Linked DNA regions of Homo sapiens: region 2 is linked to region 1. Evidence: fine-mapped expression QTL. A gene starts in region 1. The other region holds a variant in brackets. All regions are shown on one strand. Distances are between the middles of the regions. Region 1 holds the start of SLC7A7 (solute carrier family 7 member 7). Region 2 overlaps SLC7A7 (solute carrier family 7 member 7).

Region 1 (9,797 bases):
GCTGAGCTTCTAGCTTGGAGTGATGGGGAAATCTAGTCATACCAGAGTGTATCTGTTTTCTGTTTCTGTTGTTAGGGGAGGCAGCACAGACTGATTGGAGCCAGGAAGGCAGGACATGGGGTCTCTGGGAGAGAAAGTGTGTTCTTATAGTAGTTCCCTGAGCTTGGCTGAGGAGCCAAGACCCCGAATTATGTACTAGTTCCTGGAGAAATTGTGTTTTGGTGTTGTCATTCGAGGGTGAGGTTAGGGTGAGGGGCTCCATTGGCTGTCCTGCCCAGCACTGCATACTGGAGGCCCTGCTGCCAGTTTCTGAATCAAATTTCTTCCACAAGCTGTAGGATGAGTGTGTTGTCCTGTAATCTTCACTGGGTGTTCAGAGATGAATGCATCTCAGACAGGGAAAGGCAACAAGGGCTGCTGTTATCTTATGGGGTTTCTCATGTAAAACCTGGGGTGGGTCAGGCACGGTGGCTCACACCTTTAATCCCAGCACTTTGGGAGGCTGAGGTGGGAGGATCACGAGGTCAGGAGTTCGAGACCAGCCTGGACAACATGGTGAAACCCCATCTCTACTAAAAATACAAAAATTAGCTGGGCGCGGTGGCGGGCACCTGTAATCCCAGCTACTTGGGAGGCTGAGGCAGGAGAACCCGGGAGGCAGAGGTTGCAGTGAGCAGAGATTGTGCCACTGCACTCCAGCCTGGGGGACAAAGCAAAACTCCATCTCGGGTAAAAAAAACCCAAAAACCAAAAAAAAAAAAAAACCAAAAACCTGGGGTAGAAGAGCCCCTTTGGGAGAGCCTAGGGGTGTTGCTGGTCCCAGGCTGCCTGAATGGTGGGGCTGCCTGAATGGTGGAAGCATTACCCTAAGACCCAGGGTCTCAGGGAGAAATGTGAGCTGCCAAAGATGGTGCCTTCTTGTCCAGGGTGCTAGGTAGTGGTTGAGAAAAGAGGGGGTCTTCATGTTCTCAATGCATGGCAGCCTCCCTTGCCTAGTGCGCACGGGCAGACTGAAGTAGGTTAGAGTCCACTAGCACTTCCTGGTGCTACCACTAGGGCGTGCTGTTTGCTGGAGTGTGGGTTTTACCCCCAGCAGATTTCTGTCTCAAAATTCCACGGATAGGACTTCACTTTTCAGATGCTACCAGTCAGGAATGAAACCCTGTACACTTCTCTCTCCATTCCCCCTCACAGTTTTCCCTTCCTTTGTCCCTCCTTCCTTCCTTTCTTTTACGTCATATTAGGACACATGCCCACCCCTTGGTGCCAGTGAATTTGGTCTTAAAAGGGCAGGCGTGATGATGTGTTTGTGTTTTTTTTTTTGTTTGCTTTAGAAGTGGGCACCCTAGCAATAGCAGCACTGCCAAGAGGACTTGTAATCACCTCTTATCCCTGCAAAGAATGAGAAAGGGGAGGGGCAGCCAGGAAGGAGATTAACAAACTTTGTTGGAGCCTTTCGTCTAGGCTATAGACTGAAGGATGACAGAGGCTTTCTTTCTTTTTAATCTAGTCTGCTTACATCTTCCCCCAGGTAATTCATGTAGATAATTCCTGTCCAAAAGCAAGGTCTAAGGTGGCATCGGTGGCTCACGCCTGTAATCCCATCACTTTGGGAGGCAGAAGCAGGTGGATCAGTTGAGGCCAGGAGTTCAAGACCGGCCTGGCCAACATGGCAAAACCTCGTCTCTACTAGAAATACAAAAATTAGGCTGGGCACAATGGCTCATGCCTGTAATCCTAGCACTTTGGGAGGCCGAGGTGGGCGGATTGCCTGAGTTTAGGAGTTTAAGACCATCCTGGTCAATGTGGTGAAACCCCGACTCTACTAAAAACAAAAAAGATTAGCTGGGCGTGGTGGTGTGCACCTGTAATCCCAGCTACTCGGGAGGCTGAGGCAGGAGAATTGCTTGAACCCAGTAGGTGGAGGTTGCAGTGAGCCGAGATTGCACCACTGCACTCCAGCCTGGGCGACAGAGTAAGTGTCTGTCTCAAAATAAATAAAATAAAATAAAATAAAATAAAATAAAAATACCGAAATAAAAACACAAAAATTAGCCAGGTGTAATCCTAGTTACTCAGGAGGCTGATGCATGAGAATTGCTTGAACCAGGAGGTGGTGGAGGTTGCAGTGAGTCAAGATCGTGCCACTGCACTCCAGCCTGGGGGACAGAGTGAGACTCTGTCTCAAAAAAAGAAAATAAATAAAAAAAAAAAAAAATAAAAGGAAGGCCTAGAGACTAAGGCAGGCCAGGGGGATGGGGAGATGGAGAGATAGTATACTTGTGTGATTAAGAGTATATGAGCTCTGGAGGTTCCATGAGATAATGTGCTTAAGTCCTTAGCAGTGTGTCTGGCCCAGTAAGTGCTCAATAAGTGATAGCAATTATTATTACAGGAGCATTTTGGAGAAAAGGAGAGTCTCCTCCAGAAGGATTTCAGATCATTGTGAGCCTGTCTTGGGAGAAGCATGATCTCTGGGAACGCTCACACCAGAATCCTCCTCCTAGATTAAATTAAAAGTTTAAAGAGCTAGAATGGGAGGATGTATGGTAGAGATGTCTCCCAGAGATATTTAGATCTCTATTCTCTGGTTGTAGAATAACCAAAGAGGGTTAGAACAGATAGGAGAAGAAACAGACAGTTGGATTTCAGAATGGATAGGGTCTATTTCTGTTGGTAAAAGAGACTCAGAATACCAGATTTAAAGTAAATAATAAAGATAGCATAAACTATGTGATTTCCAAAAAGTGCTCAGCTTCCTCTGCCTGTTCTGGGCCTGTCTGTCCAACAGAATTCAGTGAAATCTGATTTCCTCATATTCTTTTTTAATTTTTTTTTTTTGAGATGGAGTCTTGCTGTGTTGCCCAGGCTGGAGTGCAGTGGCCTAATGTGGGTTCACTGCAAGCTCCGCCTCCCGGGTTCATGCCATTCTCCTCATTCTCCTGCCTCAGCCTCCCGAATAGCTGGGACTACAGGTGCCCGCCACCACGCCCGGCTAATTTTTATTTTTTTGTGTTTTTAGTAGAGACGGGGTTTCACCGTGTTAGCCAGGATGGTCTTGATCTCCTGACCTTGTGATCCGCCTGCCTCAGCCTCCCAAAGTGCTGGGATTACAGGCGTGAGCCACCGCGTCTGGCCTGATTTCCTCATATTTTTTAGGAAAGTGGAGTCAACTTATATTTGAGGAAGGCGTTTATAGGAATTTATGCTTATCCCAGAGATCTTGGTATGTTTTGTCAAGAATGAAAAGGCACGTGGGTCTGGTGGGGATGCAGTCAGATATTTGATCTCTTGACTGTGTTTCTTTTGAAGTAGTCTGAGGCTCAGACTTTGGGGCAGTGGCCCAGGCTTGGAGGCAACCCCCCAGTCTCTCTTTGCATGGGGAAGTGTGCAGAGTTCTCTTAGAACACCCAGTCACATGGTGTAGAGACTGCTCTTACACTTCCTGTAATCTCAGCATGGGAACAAGCCTTTGTGTCACACTGTGCAACCTTCCTCCCTTTCTTAAATGCTTGGGGTGAGAGAGAAGAGAGGCTAGGGTGGGGCATGGAGGACACAGAGAGAGAGAGTGCTGTGTATTCCTTCCCCGCTACTGTCCTGTCCTCAGCTAACTTGCTCTGGGACAGCTTCCCCAGGGCTACAGATACTGCACTCAGCTGACTGTCCTTTCTTCTGGGCCCCTGGTCCCAGAGCAGAGCTGACAAAGGAGATTCCTGAGAGAGCACCTTCTTATCACAGAAAGTGCTGAGCCAAGAGCTCCTAGCTGCCCCTTTTGCAGATGTGAAGGGCCAGTGAACCTTGGACCCAGATGGTTGCTTAATACTCCTTTCCCCCTCCCTCACTCCTTCCTTTGCGGGCTGCCTCACCTCCTCCACCCTTCTTGCTTAAATCCATAGGCATTTGTCTGGCCTTCCCTTTTACTGCTGGCTGGGAAGGAGGAGCATCAGACCACAGATCCTGGAAGGCACTTCTCTCCCTGACTGCTGCTCACACTGCCGTGAGAACCTGCTTATATCCAGGACCAAGGAGTGAGTGTGCGTTCCACCCTCTTCTCATCTCCACTTACCTTGCTAACCCTCCTCTTTGCTGCTGTGCAGTGTCTAATCGCTTCTTCTCCCGAGTGCCTCTCACCCTAACATCTCTCCATTGCTTGACTAGCCTCTCCCATTTTCCTCTCAGCTGTCTCCTGTTCGGTGTTTTCCAGCATGTGCTGCCTGGCTGCAGCTGTCTCCCTGCCTTGGCTCGGGGTGATATCTCTCCAGCAGCAACTCTGGGGTAGGGAGTGGCCATCAGCTGCCTCCAATCATCCCTAGGTTTTATGGTACATTGGATCGCCCTTCTCTCATTCATACTTTTTTGGGTGATTCAACGATGCTGATGTGAGGGATCGATAGCAGGAGGCTTAGAATACCAGAGAATGGGAAAGGAAAAGCAAGGAAAAGATAATAGCCTGTCTTCTTTCAGGGTGAAGTGGGTCTACTTGGGCTTTGCCAGGGCTGAAGACTCCAGCTAAGGGTTAAGGGATGCTCTTTGGGCAGGAGGATGGTTGTGGGTTTCCAGCAGGTTTCTGAAGCCTTTAGTTTTGGCAGACGTAGAGTCCTTGGGGAAAAGAGCAGTGTCATGAGACGCTCCCACAGATTAGCTGCTGGTAGGGTCAGTTCCTAATGTTGTACCTCAGCACAGGTGATCCCTGAAGCTGAAATTGGAGGGAAGACGGGTTTTGGATAAGGCTGAAAACTCGGGGTCAAGCCATTATAGTTATTTTCTGGGAGCCGCCACACTGCCCCCATGCCTGTCTTGTATTATAGCAGGCTCAGAGAGAACCAACATTTAGTGTTTTGTTTTTGATTTTGTTTTTTTTTTGAGACAGAGTTTTGCTCTTGTTGCCCAGGCTGGAGTGCAATGGCCCAGTCTTAGCTTACCGCAACCTCTGCCTCCCGGGCTCAAGTGATTCTCCTGCCTCAGCCTCCCAAGCAGCTGGGATTACAGGCATGTGCCACCACGCATGGCTAATTTTTGTATTTTTAGTAGAGACTGGGTTTCTAAATGTTGGTCAGGCTGGTCTCGAACTCCCGACTTTAGGTGATCTGCCCGCCTTGGCCTCCCAAAGTGCTGGGTTTACAGATGTGAGCCACAGCGCCCGGCCCAAGATTTAGTTCTCTATTTGGTGAGTCGGGTGGGCAGCAATGTCCTAATGATGAGAGACAGATCCTTTCTCTCTGGCGAATGAGTGCCTTCTCTTAAAAATTCAAGTTGGAGGCTGGGCAAGGTGGCTCACGCCTGTAATCCCAGCACTTTGGGAGGCCGAGGCGGGCGGATAACCTGAGGTCGGGAGTTTGAGACCATCCTGACCAACATGGAGAAACCCCATCTCTACTAAAAATACAAAATTAGCTGGGTGTGGTGGTGCATGCCTATAATCCCAGCTACTTGGGAGGCTGAGGCAGGAGAATCACTTGAACCCGGGAGGCGGAGGTTGCAGTGAGCTGAGATCGCGCCATTGCACTCCAGCCTGGGCAACAAGAGCAAAACTCCATCTCAAAAAAAAAAAAAAAAAATTAGCCACGCGTGGTGGCAGGTGCCTGTAATCCCAGCTACTTGGGAGGCTGAGGCAAGAGAAGCGCTTGAACCCGGGAGGCTGAGGTTGCAGTGAGCCGAGCCGAGATTGCACCACTGCACTCCAGCCTGGGCTACAGAGCGAGACTCTGTCAATAAATAAATAAATACATAGATAGATAGACAAATATTCAAGTTGGGGTTGTTTTGATGAGTGAGCTGGAGAAAAGGTTATTTGGAGGTCTCCGCATTGGTTGGTGAGCTGCCCGTATTACCCTGTGTTGGAGGCGGGTAGAGGTTCTATGTAATTGCCAACCACCTAATCTATAGCATCATCTTTCTTCCTTAAAGGGCAATGCCAGGAAGCTGGTGAAGGGTTTCCTCTCCTCCACCATGGTTGACAGCACTGAGTATGAAGTGGCCTCCCAGCCTGAGGTGGAAACCTCCCCTTTGGGTGATGGGGCCAGCCCAGGGCCGGAGCAGGTGAAGCTGAAGAAGGAGATCTCACTGCTTAACGGCGTGTGCCTGATTGTGGGGAACATGATCGGCTCGGGCATCTTTGTTTCCCCCAAGGGTGTGCTCATATACAGTGCCTCCTTTGGTCTCTCTCTGGTCATCTGGGCTGTCGGGGGCCTCTTCTCCGTCTTTGGGGCCCTTTGTTATGCGGAACTGGGCACCACCATTAAGAAATCTGGGGCCAGCTATGCCTATATCCTGGAGGCCTTTGGAGGATTCCTTGCTTTCATCAGACTCTGGACCTCCCTGCTCATCATTGAGCCCACCAGCCAGGCCATCATTGCCATCACCTTTGCCAACTACATGGTACAGCCTCTCTTCCCGAGCTGCTTCGCCCCTTATGCTGCCAGCCGCCTGCTGGCTGCTGCCTGCATTTGTAAGTGGGGCTGGGGTAGGAGGTGGTGGGTGGAGGGCTGGACAGAGGCTGGGATGTGAGTGCAGTCTGGGAGTAAGAAGGAGATAGAGAGGAATGTCTCTGACAACATATATATATATATATATAGTTAAAGTATGCTTTGTGTGAAAATTCAAACAGTACCACAGTGTATCGCAAAAACACTCACCTTTTCCCCAGCTTCTCACAGTAAGCACTATTAGCAGTTTGCATATTCTTCCTGATTTTTTTTTTTTTTTTTTAAAGAGACAGGTATTTTGCTCTGTCACCCAGACTGGAGTGCAGTGGTGTGATTATACCTTACTTCAGCCTCGAACTTCTAGGCTCAAGCTATCCTCCTGCCTCAGCCTCCTGAGTAGCAGGGACCACAGGCACACTGATTTTTTTTTCTTGTTCCTTCAAGAGATGTAGTTTTGGCAGGGTGTGGTGGCTTATGCCTGTAATCCCAGCACTTTGGGAGGCTGAAGTGGGCAGATCACCTGAGGTCAGGAGTTCGAGACTAGCCTGGCCAACATGGTGAAACCCCATCTCTACTAAAAATACAAAAATTAGCTGGGTGTGGTGGCAGGTGCCTGTAATCCCAGCTACTCAGGAGGCTGAGGCAGGAGAATCGCTTGAACCCAGGAGGCAGAGGTTGCGGTGAGCCAAGATCGCACCACTGCACTCCAGCCTGGGCAACAGAGTGAGACTCTATCTCAAAAAAATAAAAATAAAAAAAAAAGAGGTGTAGTTTTGTTCTTTTACAAAAATGAGGTCATACTAGTCTACATGTAATTCTACAGTGTGCTTTTCCTCTAGCATTATCAGTGACATTCTTTTCTACTTACAGATCTACTTTTTAAAAAATGCTTCATATTATTTCATGTGAATTTTAAGGATGCATAGTAGTTTATTTATCTAGCTGGTCCTCTGTTAATGGCCATGTACGTTGGTTTCAGTTTCTCAGTCTTACAGATAATGCTCCAGTGAATATCTTTTTGCAGCTGCATGAGTATTTCTGTAGGCTGGATTCTTCCTTTTTTTTTTTTTTTTTTTTTGAGATAGAGTCACTCTGTCGCCCAGGCTTGAGTGGTGCAATCTCAGCTCACTGCAACCTCCATCTTCTGGGTTCAAGTGATTCTCCTGCCTCAGCCTCCCTAGTAGCTGGGATTACAGGCATGTGCCACCATGCCTAGCTAATTTTTTTGTATTTTTGGTGGAGACGGGGTTTCACTGTGTTGGCCAGGCTGGACTCGAACTCCTGAGCTCAAGTGATCTACCTGCCTTGGCTTCCCAAAGTGTTGGGATCACAGGCGTGAGCCACTGCACCCGGCCTCTGTGGGCTAGATTTTTAATACTGTCATTTCAGTCCACCTTGGCTTTTTCTCCATCTCATAAATAAAACATTATTTAAATCTGTACATTCAGTAAAGCCATTGGAGGTGCTGAGATGATGATTCTCCATAGCCCCATCCCTCAGATGCCACTATTCTTGAAAAATGCCCTTCCAACCTGGGAGAGCCTAGGACCTTAGAGATGCCTTCCACCCTGCAACTGTGAAGAAGCTCAGACATTCTGTCAATTTGAGGGGCAGCTGCTCTAGCAGTTGGGGCACAGGAATTTTGCACCAGGTGCAATTGCTCATTGGCTCACCGCTCTCCAATCAGTTTGTGTCCTTTTTTCTTTCAATTTCTGTATTGCCCCATTCACTCCTCAACTTCCTTTCCAGCTTCTCTGATTTTACTGTTGTGTAGAGAACTGGCTGTCTTCTGTGGGGTCCTTCTGTGTTTTGTGTGTCCTTGTGTCTGGCCTGGACTCATCTCTGCATATGGGATGTTTGTCATACATGGCAACAGTCAGGGAGGGGTGGAAGGCACTGCTTTGTGTTGCAAGAAGGGGGTTTTCACTGAGGTTTTTTTTTTCCGAGACGGAGTTTCACTCTTGTTGCCCAGGCTGGAGTGCAATGGCACAATCTCGGCTCACCACAACCTCTGCCTCCCGGGTTCAAGTGATTCTCCTGCCTCAGCCTCTCAAGTAGCTGGGATTACAGGCATGTGCCACCACGCCTGGCTAATTTTTGTATTTTTATTAGAGACAGGGTTTCTCCATGTTGGTCAGGCTGGTCTTGAACTCCCGACCTCAGGTGATCCGCCCGCCTTGGCCTCCCAAAGTGCTGGGATTACAGGCATGAGCCACTGTGCCCAGCCTTCACTGAGGTCTTAAATATGATCTGTGATTTCTCTTGCATTACTTGCAGATGATCTGGTAGGTTGCTTACTGGCAAAACTAATTTTAGGATCTATTGGTCTTGGAGCACCCTCAAATGTGGGCATATGGTTAATTATATCATGTGCAGAGAAGGATCATTTCATCTAAGTAATATTTCTAAGATGGCTGCATTCCTTTAAAATACCAGAAATCTATTTTTTTTTTTTTTTTTGAGATGGAGTTTCGCTCTTGTTGCCCAGGCTGGAATGCAATGGCGTGATCTTGGCTCACCGCAACCTCTGCCTCCCAGGTTCAAGTGATTCTCCTGCCTCAGCCTCCCGAGTAGCTGGGATTACAGATGTGCTACCATGCCCGGCTAATTTTGTATTTTTAGTAGAGATGGGGTTTCTCCATGTTGGTCAGGCTAGTCTCGAACTCCGGACCTCAGGTAATCCGCCTACCTCGGCCTCCCAAAGTGCTGGGATTACAGGCATGGGCCACCTTCCCGGCCTTAGAATTCTATTATTTTAACTATCTTTGTCTGTGTCATTTCTGACAGCTCTTGTTCCTCGATTCTGACCTTGTGCCTACCTCTGCCAGTCAACCCTTTTTAATTTTCTGCTGTTGCTGCTTTTTTTTTTTTTTTTTTTTTTTTGAGACAGTGTTTCCCTCTTGTTGCCCAGGCTGGAGTGCAATGGTGCGATCTCAGCTCACTGCAACCTCCGCCTCCCGAGTTCCAGCGATTCTCTTGCCTCAGCCTCCCAAGTAGCTGGGATTACAGGCGCCCGCCACCACGCCAAGCTAATTTTTTGTATTTTTAGAAGAGATGGGATTTCACAGCCACTGCACCTGGCCAATTTTCTGCTTCTAATTTGGGTATAGAGACATACATGTTTAAATCCTCATTCACCCATGTACACATTCACGTGCCTGTACATCCTTGTAAGAATACATGCAAAGGCCGGGTGCAGTCGCTCATGCCTGTAATCCTAGCACTTTGGGAAGCTAAGATGGGCGGATCGTGAAACCCCCTCTCTACTAAAAATACAAAAAAGGCCGGGCATGGTGGCTCACGCCTGGAATCCCAGCACTTTGGGAGGCCGAGATGGGTGGATCACGAGGTCAAGAGATCAAGATCATCCTG
Region 2 (11,908 bases), 25 kb after region 1:
TCCCAGCTACTCAGGTGGCTGAGGTGGGAGGATTGTTTAAGCCCATTTGGTCCAAGCTGCAGTGAGCCAAGATTGTGCCACTGCATTCCAGCATGGGCAACAGAGTGAGACGCTGTCTCAAAAAAAAAAAAAAAAAAAAAAGAAAGAAAGAAAACAATACTCATCACTCCCACTCCCTGACTACATAAATCTGAACCACTGGGGAGAAGAATGAGATGAGAATTGGCTTGGAGAACGAGAATTAAGGAAGCAGAAAAATTGCTTTTGAGGAGAATTGATGAGGGTCTTGTGTCACTAGAGGTGGGAAAAGCCGTTCTCAATTGTCACCATGCTTCAGAGTCACCTGGGGAGTTTTAAAAACATGCCGATGCCTGGGTTCCACCCCAGAATTTCTGACTTCATTGGTCTGGGTGGGGCCTGAGCACTGGACTGTTAAAGCTCGTCAAGTGATGCTAGTTTGCAGCCAGGATAGAGGAGCCTTGAGTTAGCAAAGGGTTGCGACTGTTCTGATACAGCTGCTCTGTGTGTGGTTATTTCCGTAGGTGATTACCTAAGGAAACACACCCAGAGAAGCAGATCCTCAGATTAGCCTGCGAAACTGTCTCAGGTCTCCTGCATCAGAACCTCTGGGGTGTGGGGCCCTGAAGTTGTGGGTCGACAAATTCCTCAGGTGGTACTGATGCTCACTCAGGCTTGAGATCTGGTACCTGAGGACTTGAACTGACCCCTAGCTAAGCAAACCAATAAGGATTGGATTTACACGGCTTGGAGAAGGGACTCACGGGGTTGTTACTATAAGACCCTCCTGGTACAAACTGCCTGCTTGCTCCCTCAGAGTGGTCAGAGCCACAGGGACCAAAGTGCTGACTGAGTTCCAGGAAGGAGAGCGGGAGGACTCTGATCCAGTGACCCACAGGGATTGCATTTGGTGTGTCTTCTTGCCAGAGGTGTAACTGCCCAAGGGGTTCACCTTGCCCACTGCCTAGACAGAGCCAATTCTTCAAGACAGGGATATTGCAATAATGAGTAATTCACACAGAGCCGGCTGTGCGGGAGACCGGAGTTTTATTATTACTCAAATCAGTCTCCCCGAACATTCTGGGAGCAGAGTTTTTAAGGATAACTTGGTGGGTCAGGGGAAGCCAGTGAGCCAGGAGTGCTGATTAGTTAGAGATGAAATCACAGGGAATCAGAGCTGTCTTCTTGCTCTCAGTCAGTTCCTGGGTGGGGGCCACAAGATCAGCTAAGCCAGTTTATTGATCTGGGTGGGGGCCAGCTGATCCACCAAGAGCAGGGTCTACAAAATACCTCAAGCACTGATCTTAGGAGCAGTTTAGGGAAGGTCAGAATCTTGTAGCTTCCAGCTGCGTGACTCCTAAACCATAATTTCTTTTTTTTTTTCGAGATGGAGTCTTGCTCTGTCACCCAGGCTGGAGTGCAGTGGTGTGATATTGGCTCACTGCCACCTCCACCTCCCGAGTTGAAGTAATTCTCCTGCCTCAGCCTCCCTAGTAGCTGGGGTTACAGGTGCACGCCACCACACCCAGCTAATTTTATTTTTTATTTTTAGTAGAGACAGGTTTTCACCATGTTGCCCAGGCTGGTCTTGAACTCCTGACCTCAGGTGATCCGCCCTCCTATGGCTCCCAAAGTGCTGGGATTACAGGCATGAGCCACCGTGCCCAGCCCTAAACCATAATTTCTAATCTTGTGGCTAATGTTAGTCCTACAAAGGCAATCTAGTCCCCAGGCAAGAAGGAGGTCTGCTTTGGGAAAGGGCTGTTATCCTCTTTGTCTAAATTATAAACTAAGTTTCTCCCAAAGTTAGTTCAGCCTATGCCTGGGAATGAATAAAGGCAGCTTGGAGGTTAGAAGCAAGATGGAGTCAGTTAAGTTAGATCTCTTTCACTGTCTCAGTCAAAATTTTGCAATTACAGAGGCTCTCACCCATGACACCTGAGTAAGCGAATTGGTTGTTTCTTTAAAATTTTTATTTTAATTGGCTGGGCGTGGTGGTTTACGCCTGTAATCCCAGCACTTTGGGAAGCCGAGGCGGGCGGATTACGAGGTCAGGAGATCGAGACCATCCTGGCTAACACGGTGAAACCCTGTCTCTACTAAAGAATACAAAAAATTAGCTGGGCTTGGTGGCGGGCGCCTGTAGTCTCAGCTACTTGGGAGGCTGAGGCAGGAGAACGGCATGAACCCGGGAGGCGGAGGTTGCAGTGAGCCAAGATCGCACCACTGCACTCCAGCCTGGGCGACAGAGCGAGACTCTGTCTTTAAAAAAAAAAAAAAGATATTTTTCTTTTCTTTTCCTTTCTCTCTCTCTCTCTCTCTCTCTCTCTCTTTCTTTCTTTGAGACGGGGCCTCACACTATCATCCAGGCTGGAGTGCAGTGGTGCAATCTCGGCTCACTGCAACCTCCGCCTCCTGGGTTCAAAATGATTCTCCTCTCTCAGACTCCCAGGTAGCTAGGATTACAGGCGTGCGCCACCACGGCTGGCTAATTTTTGTATTTTTAGTAGAGACGGGGTTTTGCCATGTTGGTCAGGCTGGTCATGAACGCTTGACCTCAGGTGATCCGCCCACTTCGGCTTCCCAAAATGCTGGGATTACAGGTGTGAGCCACCACCACGCCTGGTCAAAAATGTTATTTTATTTTCTGAGACGAAGTCTTGCTTTGTTGCCCAGGCTGGTGTGCAGTAGCATGGTTATGGGCTCAATCCTGCACTCAAGTGACCTTCCCACCTCAGCCTTCCAAGTAGCTAGGACCATCAGTGTGCACCACCAAGTCCAGCTAATTTGTAATTTTTTTGTAGAGAAAGGGTCTTGCTATGCTGCCCAGGCTGGTCTCCAACTCCTGGCCTCAAGTGATCCTCACGTCTTGGCCTTCCAAAGTGCTGGGATTATAGGCATGAGCCACTGCACCTGGAGTAAAAGGTTTCTGTAGTCTGAAAGGTAAAATAATTTGAAGGCCATCTGCTATCTGAGAGAAATAACAGCACCTAGGGAGAGTGGAAGAAATAATGTATCAAAGAAGCCAGGGTGAAATTGTGATTTCAAGGTGTAGAGAGTTTCCAGGCCGGGCGCGGTGGCTCAAGCCTGTAATCCCAGCACTTTGGGAGGCCAAGGCGGGTGGATCACGGGGTCAGGAAATTGAGACCATCCTGGCTAACATGGTGAAACCCCGTCTGTACTAAGAGTACAAAAAAATTAGCCGGACGTGGTGGCGGACGCCCGTAGTCCCAGCTACTCGGGAGGCTGAGGCAGGAGAATGGCGTGAACCCAGGAGGCGGAGCTTGCAGTGAGCCGAGATGGCGCCACTGCACTCCAGCCTGGGCGACAGAGCGAGACTCCATCTCAATTAAAAAAAAAAAAAAAAAGGTGTAGAGATTTTCCCAAACCAACATTAGACAAAACAAATGGGGATGCAGCAAAGAAAAGGAAGAAGAGACTTGAAATCTCTGGGTTTAGGTAACAGATATGAGGCGTTTCCAGAGAGCTTATATCTGGACCTTCTGAGGAAACAGCAGTGGTAGAGTATTTTGGAGACACCAGGGTATTAGCAGGCCTGAGTATGCCAGTTGTGGGGTTTGGCCTTCCCCCAGGAATAGTGTGCATCTGACTATACACAGACCCAGCCTAACCTAGAAATGTGCAGTTTTTCTGAGCAACATGTGACCAAGAGCTTGCTCACACCAATTAAGCCTAGGGACTGCTATCCTTCTGCTAATTGCTGTGGGATGAATGATGTCACCAGTCAGAAGATAGCTGAGATGTCTCACTGGTGACGTGAAGTTTAAAGTAGCAAACTGAGTGGCAGGTGGAATTTTCGTCTCTTTGTCAGCTGAAGGCTGTGTATGTGAAAGAAAAAAGAACACAGAACAGAGTTCCTAACCGTAAATTCTAAGATTCTAAGATACCAGAAAGATAAACTCCTGGTAAGGGATAGAGGAGGTTTATAGGGATTGGGAGAGATGTGTATAATAAGGCTTTAGAATGGAAATTTTAGAGGCAAGGAGAAAAATGCCTAGATAAAAGTATAAATCTGGGTATTTTGGAGACTACATAGCAGAGAATAAAGGCAGAGAGGAGTTGCTCAGTAACGCATTTGGAGAAAATGGGATGGAAGATCAGAAATGATGCTTTTGAACTCTTATCTACAAATATTACAAGTAAGGCTAATAAACGTATTTGACCTTTTTTTTTTTTTTTTGTGAGACGGAGTCTCGCTCTGTCACCAGGCTGGAGTGCAGTGGCGCGATCTTAGCTCACTGCAACCTCCGCCTCCTGGGCTCAAGTGATTCTCCTGCCTCAGCCTCCCCAGTAGCTGGGACTACAGGCGCACACCACCACACCCAGCTAATTTTTGTATTTTTAGTAGAGACGGGGTTTCACCATGTTGGCCAGGATGGTCTCAATCTCTTGAACTCGTGATTCGTCTGCCTCCGCCTCCCAAAGTGCTGGGATTACAGGCATGAGCCACTGTGCCCGGCCCGTATTTGACCTTTTACTGAAAGGAGGAAACAATTTCATAGGCATCAGCGATATTTGATTAGAATATGATAATGAAAGAGTATACTTTGTTCAAAAATGATGATTTGCTAGAAGAGCTGGGATTCATGTAGTACATTAAAGAGAGAGGTACATACTTGTTTGAGGATCTGCTATCATAAGGGATGCCTGCCTTCTTTGCATAAGGTCACATTTAGATTCTTTTGATTGCAGTGAGAGGGAAATTTCAGTACACCAAGATCCAGTGAGCTGTCAAGGGTTTCACTTCCCCTTTCTCCATTTTTCAACAAATGTAATGAATAGTACCACCCAGTGCTACTTCCAGTTTTCTGCCTGCAGTTAGGTTTTTTTTTTTTTTTTTTTTTTTTTTTTGAGACAGTCTTGCTCTGTCACCCAGGCTGGAATGCAGTGGTGCAATCAAGGATCACTGCAGCCTTGACCTCCCCAGGCTCAAGCAATTCTCCCACCTTAGCCTCCTGAGTAGTTGAGACTACAGGTGCACGCCACCAGGCCCAGCTAATTTTTGTATTTTTTGTAGAATCAGGGTTTCTCTATGTTGCCCAGGCTGGTTTCAAACTCCTGAGCTCAAGGGATCAGCCCACCCTGGCCTCCCAAAGTGCTGGAATTACAGGAGCGAGCCACTGTGCCCAGCCAACATATGAGTTTTCTATTGCTTCTCTAACAAGTTACCACCAATTGAGTGGCTGAAAACAACACAAATTTATCATCTCATAATTCTGGAGGTCAGAAGTCTGAAATGGGTCTCACTGGGCTAATATGAAGTAGCACTGTGTTTCTTTCTGGAGGCTTAAGGAGAGGATCCATCTTCTTGCCTTTCCCAGCTTCTAGAGTCTCATGGACCCTTCCATTTTCAAAGTCAGCAGTAACTGGGAGAGTCTTTCTCATATTGTACTACTCTGACATTGACCTTTCTGCCTCCCTCTTTCATCTTTAAGAACTTTTGTGATTACATTGGGCCCACCCAGAGAATACAGAATGATTTCCCTGTTTTGTCACTTGATTAGCAATCTTCATTCTGTCTGCAACTTTTTTCTTTTTTTTTTTTTTTTTTGAGCCAGAGTCTTGCTCTGTTGCCCAGGCTGAAGTGCAGTGGTGTGATCTTGGCTCACTGCAACCTCCGCCTCCTGGGTTCAAGCAATTCTCCTGCCTCAGCCTCCTGAGTAGCTGGGATTATAGGCACCCACCACCACACCCAGCTATTTTTTGTATTTTTAGTAGAGACGGGGTTTCACCGTGTTGGTTAGGCTGACTCATGTTGGTTAGAATTCCTGACCTCAGGTGATCTGCCCGCCTTGGCCTCCTAAAGTGCTGGGATTACAGGCATGAGCCACTGCGCCTGGCCTCTATCTGCAACTTTAATTCTCCCTTGCCATGCAATATAACATGGCTCACAGGTTCCAGGGATTAGGGGGTGGACATCTTTGGGGGGCCATTAGTCTACCTACCACAAGTGATAGCCCAGCTTTCCACCGGAGGTGGATGAGCAGCACTCTGAAGTGATAACTTAAGGTGGATTCTTGCCCAAATTCTAGGCTTGTAAGTTAAATCTGGTTAGTGAAGTACGAGCAGAAGGGTGGGAAATCATTAGTAACGTGTATGAATTCACTAAGAACAAGCCATACTCTGCTAACCTCACTTTTTGGTTCAATTTTAATTTTTTTATTCAAATATAATATACAGAAGGAACAGTGCAATCTCATAAGTTTATGGCTTAATGAATTGTCACTAGTTGAGCACATGTGTAACTAGCACCCTTGAGCCCTTCTTATGCTCTTCCCAGTCCCTGCCTCTCCACCCCACACAAAGGGAAATCACTATTCTGACTTCTAGTAGCATTGATTAGTTTTCTCTGATTTTATGTAAATGGATATAATCTATATGTACACTTTTGCATCTGGCTTGCTTATTATGTTTGAGATTCTTCTGTATTTTTGTCTGTAGTCGTAGATTGTTCACTTTTTTTTTTTTTTTT[TC/C]CCAGACAGAGTCTCACTCTGTCGCCCGGGCTGGAGTGCAGTGGTAGGATCTTGGCTCACTGCAACCTCCACCTCCCGGGTTCAAGCGATTCTCCTGCCTCAGCCTCCTGAGTAGCTGGGATGACAGGTGCCCGCCACCACGCCCAGCTAATTTTTGTATTTTTAGTAGAGACGGGGGTTTCACCATGTTGGCCAGGCTGATCTCAAACTCCTGACTTTGTGATCTGCCCGCCTTGGCCTCCCAACGTGCTAGGATTACAGATTGTTTATTCTTAGTGCTGTTTAGTATTTATTCAATCTACTGTTGCTGGGCATTTGGGTTGTTTCTAGTTTTTGACTACTGCAAGGGTGTAACTATGAATATTCTACATAAATATATACTAATTTGATTTGAATTGTTTGATAGCATCATTAGATTGTTAGAGCAGAGGCATGTGTATGCAGATTTCGGAGAGGTTCGTGGCAAATTCTCATGATATTCTTGTTGACAAGGTAGACTAGATAAAAATAAAGTTTGGTAGATTCTTAGTTGGCTGAATAACATTGTGGAATAATGACAAATACAGAAAGGTCTACAGTGATAGACTATACAGCTCTGTTGATCTTAGTCAACATTTTAATTTTTTTTTTTTTGAGACGAACTCTCGCTCTGTCACCCAGGCTGGAGTGCGGTGGCGCGATCTCGGCTCACTGCAACCGCCGCCTCCCGGGTTCACGCCATTCTCCTGCCTCAGCCTCCCGAGTAGCTGGGACTACAGGCACCCGCCACCACGCCCGGCTAACTTTTTGTATTTTTAGTAGAGATGGGGTTTCATTGTGTTAGCCAGGATGGTCTCGATCTCCTGACCTTGTGATCTGCCTGCCTCGGCCTCCCAAAGTGCTGGGATTACAGGCGTGAGCCACCGTGCCCGGCCTAACATTTTAATTTTTTTATTAAAAAAATTTTTTTTGAGACAGAGTGTTGCTCTGTCACCTAGGCTGGAGTGCAGTGGCACAATCTTGGCTCAGTGCAACCTCTGCCTCCTAGGCTCAAACAATTCCCATGTCTCAGCCTCCTGAGTAGCTGGGACCACAGGCGTGTGCCATCACACCCTGCTAATTTTTGCATTTTCCTTTTAGTAGAGATGGGGTTTTGCCATATTGCCAGGCTGGTCTCGAACTCCTGGCCTCAAGTGATCTGCCTGCCTCAGCCTCCCAAAGTGTTGGGATTACAGGCGTGAGCCACTGCTGCCAGCCCATGTCAACATTTATTTATTTATTTATTTATTTTGAGACGGAGTCTCACTCTGTCGCCCAGGCTGGAGTGTAGTGGTGTAATCTTGGCTCACTGCAACCTCCGCCTCCTGGGTTCAAGCGATTCTCCTGCCTCAGCCTCCCGAGTAGCTGGGACTACAGGTGCCCACCACCACACCCGGATAATTTTTGTTCTTTTAGTAGAGACGGGGTTTCACTATGTTGGCCAACCTGGTCTCAAACTCCTGACCTCAGGTGATCCTCCCTCCTCGGTCTCCCAAAGTACTGGTATTACAGGCGTGAGCCACTGCGCCCGGCCCTAGTCAACATTTTTAGGGTGACTTCAGTGAAGACTCAGGAGGTATGCTGATCAAATTTGCAGATTTCACAAAATTAAAGAAGGGATTTGAACTAATAAAATGAAGAAGGAAAAATCCCATATCATATAAGAATAATGCATAAAAACTCAGAGGAAAGTCACTAAGACTAAATATGAAGTCCTGTATCTGGGGGGAAAAAATCACTTTTTTTGTTTTGGAGAAAGGATCTTACTGTGTTGCCCAGGCTGCAGTGCAGTGGTGCGATCACAGCTCCCTGCAGCCTTGACCACTTGGGCTCAAGCGATCCCCCTGCCTCAACCTCCCAAGTAGCTGGGACCACAGGTGTGTGCCACCATGTCTGGCTAACTAAAAAAAATGTTTTGTGGAGATGTGTTCTCACAATGTTGCCCAGGCTGGTCTTGAACTCCTGGACTCAAGCGATCCTCCAACCTCGGCCTCCCAAAATGCTGGGATTATAGGCATGAGCCATCGCACCCAGCTAAAAAAATCATTTTTATAGGTCCAGAAAGAGGGGAGGAAAGATCTCATCACTTTGAGGTGGGAAAGAAAGGAGTTGTAGTAAACAATGATTTCAGGTTGAGACTCCGTAGTCGGCAACACGGTCTGGAGTTTTCTGTGTGGGGTCTTGCATTTCTGGGGAAATACTGACACAGTGAAGTATATGCAGTAAATGACAAAGTGAAATAAATGACAGTCCTGGGATGGTGAGGGGTCTGGAAGCCACATTTGCTCCACAAGGGGTTGTAAAATCTGGGTTTTAGCCTGAAGGAGTAAAGACTCAAGGGGACAGGATGTTCATCCTTTTTGTTTGTTTTTAGATGGAGTCTTGCTCTGTGGCCAGGCTGGAGTGCAGTGCCGTGATCTCGGCCCACTGCAACCTCTGCCTCCCGGGTTCAAGCAATTCCCCTGCCTCAGCCTCCCGAGTAGCTGGGACTACAGGCTTGTGCCACCATGCCTGGCTAATTTTTGTATTTTAGTAGAGACAGGTTTTCACCATGTTGGGCAGGCTGGTCTCAATTTCCTGACCTCGTGATCCACCCGCCTTGGCCTTTCAAAGTGCTGAGATTACAGGCGTGAGCCACTGCACCTGGCTTTTTTTTTTTTTTTTTTGAGACAGAGTCTCGCTCTGTGGCCCAGGCTGGAGTGCAGTGGCGCAATCTCGGTTCACTGCAAGCTCCGCCTCCCGGGTTCACGTCATTCTCCTGCCTCAGCCTCCTGAGTGTCTGGGACTATAGGCGCCTGCCACCACACCCGGCTAATTTTTTGTATTTTTAGTAGAGATGGGGTTTCACCGTGTTAGCCAGGATGGTCTTGATCTCCTGACCTCATGATCCGCCTGCCTCAGCTTCCCAAAGTGCTGGGATTACAGCGTGAGCCACCGCGCCTGGCTTTTTTTTTTTTTTTTGAGATGGAGTTTTGCTTTTGTTGCCTAGGCTGGTGCAATGGCGAGATCTCAGTTCACCGCAACCTCCACCTCCCGAGTTCAAGTGATTCTTCTGCCTCAGCTTCCCGACTAGCTGGGATTACAGGCATGTGCCACCACGCCTGGCCAATTTTTGTATTTTTAGTAGAGACGGAGTTTCTCCATGTTGGTCAGGCTGGTCTCGAACTCCCAACCTCAGATGATCTGCCCGCCTTGGCCTCCCAAAGTGCTGGGATTACAGGCGTGAGCCAGCGCCTGGCCGTGATATTCATCTTTAATGTTAAGAAGGGCCATTGGGTGGAAGAGGATTTAGCTTCATTCTGTGTGGAGACAGAGGAGGGGTCTGGCACTACTGGTAGAAGCTGGGAGGAAGACGCTGTTGGCTTAGTAAAAGGAAGAGCTATAGATCACTTTATTTTATTTTATTTTTTGAGATGGAGTCTCACTGTGTCACCCAGGCTGGAGTGCAGTGGCGTGATCTTGGCTCACTGCAATTTCTGCCTCCCGGGTTCAAATGATTCTCCTACCTCTGCCTCCAAGTAGCTGGGATTACAGGCATGCGCCACCACACTCAGCTAATATTTATATTTTTAGTAGAGACGGGGTTTCGCCATGGTGGCCAGACTGGTCTCAAACTCCTGGCCTCAAGTGATCTGCCCGCCTCAGTCTCTCAAGGTGCTGGGATTACAGGCGCGAACCACCGCGCCTGGCTCTATAGATCACTTTTAAAATGGAATGACGCCGGGCATGGTGGTTCACGCCTGTAATCATAAGTTTTGTGTGTTACATTGTGTGTATTTAAAGGTAATAGTGCTTACAGAATTGTGGGTTTAATGTTCTTTTTCAGGAAATGTTTCATTTAGGTGTCTAAACTAAACCTGAGCATCTGATCCAGAGTGGGCCTGCAAGCTTTGTTCTGTTCTGGATCCACCTGGTCTGGTGCTTTCTGGCTTTTAGTTCTAGCGCTGATGCTGGGCCTTACCACTAGAACTAGTCTCCTACTCCCGGGGACCGTATGTAGGCTGGGTTTGATGATCCATTCAGGAACATCTTTTTAGATGGTTATAGGAGTGACTTCTCTTTTTTTTTTTTGAGATGGAGTCTTGCTCTGTCACCAGGCTGGAGTGCAGTGGTGTGATCTTGGCTCACTGCATCCTCCGCCTCCTGGGTTCAAGTGATTCTCCTGCCTCAGCCTCCCAAGTAGATGGGACTACAGGCACACACCACCATGCCCAGCTAATTTTTGTATTTTTAGTAGAGACAGGGTTTCACCATGTTGGCCAGGATGGTCTCGATCTCTTGACCTCGTGATCTGTCCACCTCGGCCTCCCAAAGTGCTGGGATTACAGGCGTGAGCCACTGCACCCGGCCACGAGTGACTTCTTTGCAGATTCTTTTTTTCTCCCCCTGGGGTCAAAGCAGGAGTGCTGCTGCACCGAGTCAAGGGTCAAAGGTGATTTCAGGTTATCCTCTTATAGACTTGGCCCAGTGTTGGGTGGGGATTGAATTGCCCCTAGAGGTAGAAGGGGAGGGCATCTCTGCCCTTGAGGTTAACTTGCAGTTGCCTCCATATTATCCTAACCCCATGGTCCCCTCCTGTCCTTGGCCCTGAAGCAGGAGGTTGGGCTCCACTTCAAGAGCAGTGCACTTAGCTGGGCTCTGGGGCCAGTGGTCAGCTGTATCCGCTGAGGTGGGGACAAAAAGCCCTGTCAGCACTGCTGCCTGCCATACCCATTTCCTGCTCCCACAGTCAAGAGGCCCTGGAGGAAGCTAGGCTTTGAGGAAGAGGAGGGCTAGCTCTCTTCAGGCAGTTCCCTCTGCTCCCTGGTTTCTTTCTGTAGGATTCCCTTCCTCATTCAAACTGAGCCTTCTGTGCTCAGTACAGAGAGCAGATCAGGGCTAGAAGGTGGGTCAGAGAAATCAGGCTCAGGAGTGGGGGAGGTGGGATACTGGTGGACAAAGAGAGGGATACAAATGGATGGATAGAGAAGTAGAGAAGAGACTGGGCACGCCACGCCGGTGACTCACACCTGTAATCCCAGCACTTTGGGAGGCTGAGGCAGGCGGATCACCTGAGGTCAGGAGTTTGAGACTAGTCTGGCTAACATGGCGAAACCCTGTCTCTACTAAAAATACAAAAATTAGCTGGGCATGGTGTTGAATGTCTGTAATTCTAGCTACTCGGGAGGCTGAGGCAGGAGAACCGCTTGAACCCAGGAGGCGGAGGTTGCAGTGAGCTGAGATCGCACCACTGTACTCCAGCCTGGGGGACGGAGCAAGACTGTCTCGAAAAAAAAAAAAAAAGAAGTAGAGAAGCAATAGGGATTAAAATGTAAACAAGCCACCCAGGTGCCATGGCTCTTCCCTATAATCCCAGTTACTCCTCAGATAGCTGAGGT

The links.
Region 2: its variant is fine-mapped to the expression of SLC7A7 in B cells (Schmiedel 2018, PIP 0.95).

The regions. Positions count from the first base shown.
Region 1 is chr14:22,809,551-22,819,347 of GRCh38, reverse strand. It overlaps SLC7A7 (solute carrier family 7 member 7), which reads left to right and starts at 3,913. Exons shown (of 10, transcript NM_003982.4): 1 at 3,913-4,028; 2 at 5,908-6,448. The coding sequence starts at 5,950. RefSeq lists enhancers at 3,824-3,923, 4,112-4,618 and silencers at 5,926-5,985, 6,006-6,065.
Region 2 is chr14:22,783,310-22,795,217 of GRCh38, reverse strand. All of the region lies in intron 2 of SLC7A7 (solute carrier family 7 member 7), which reads left to right. Among named protein-coding and RNA genes, the nearest start is that of OXA1L, 23 kb to the right of the region's middle. RefSeq lists a silencer at 11,611-11,781. The variant TC/C (reference allele first, on the strand shown) is at 6,512.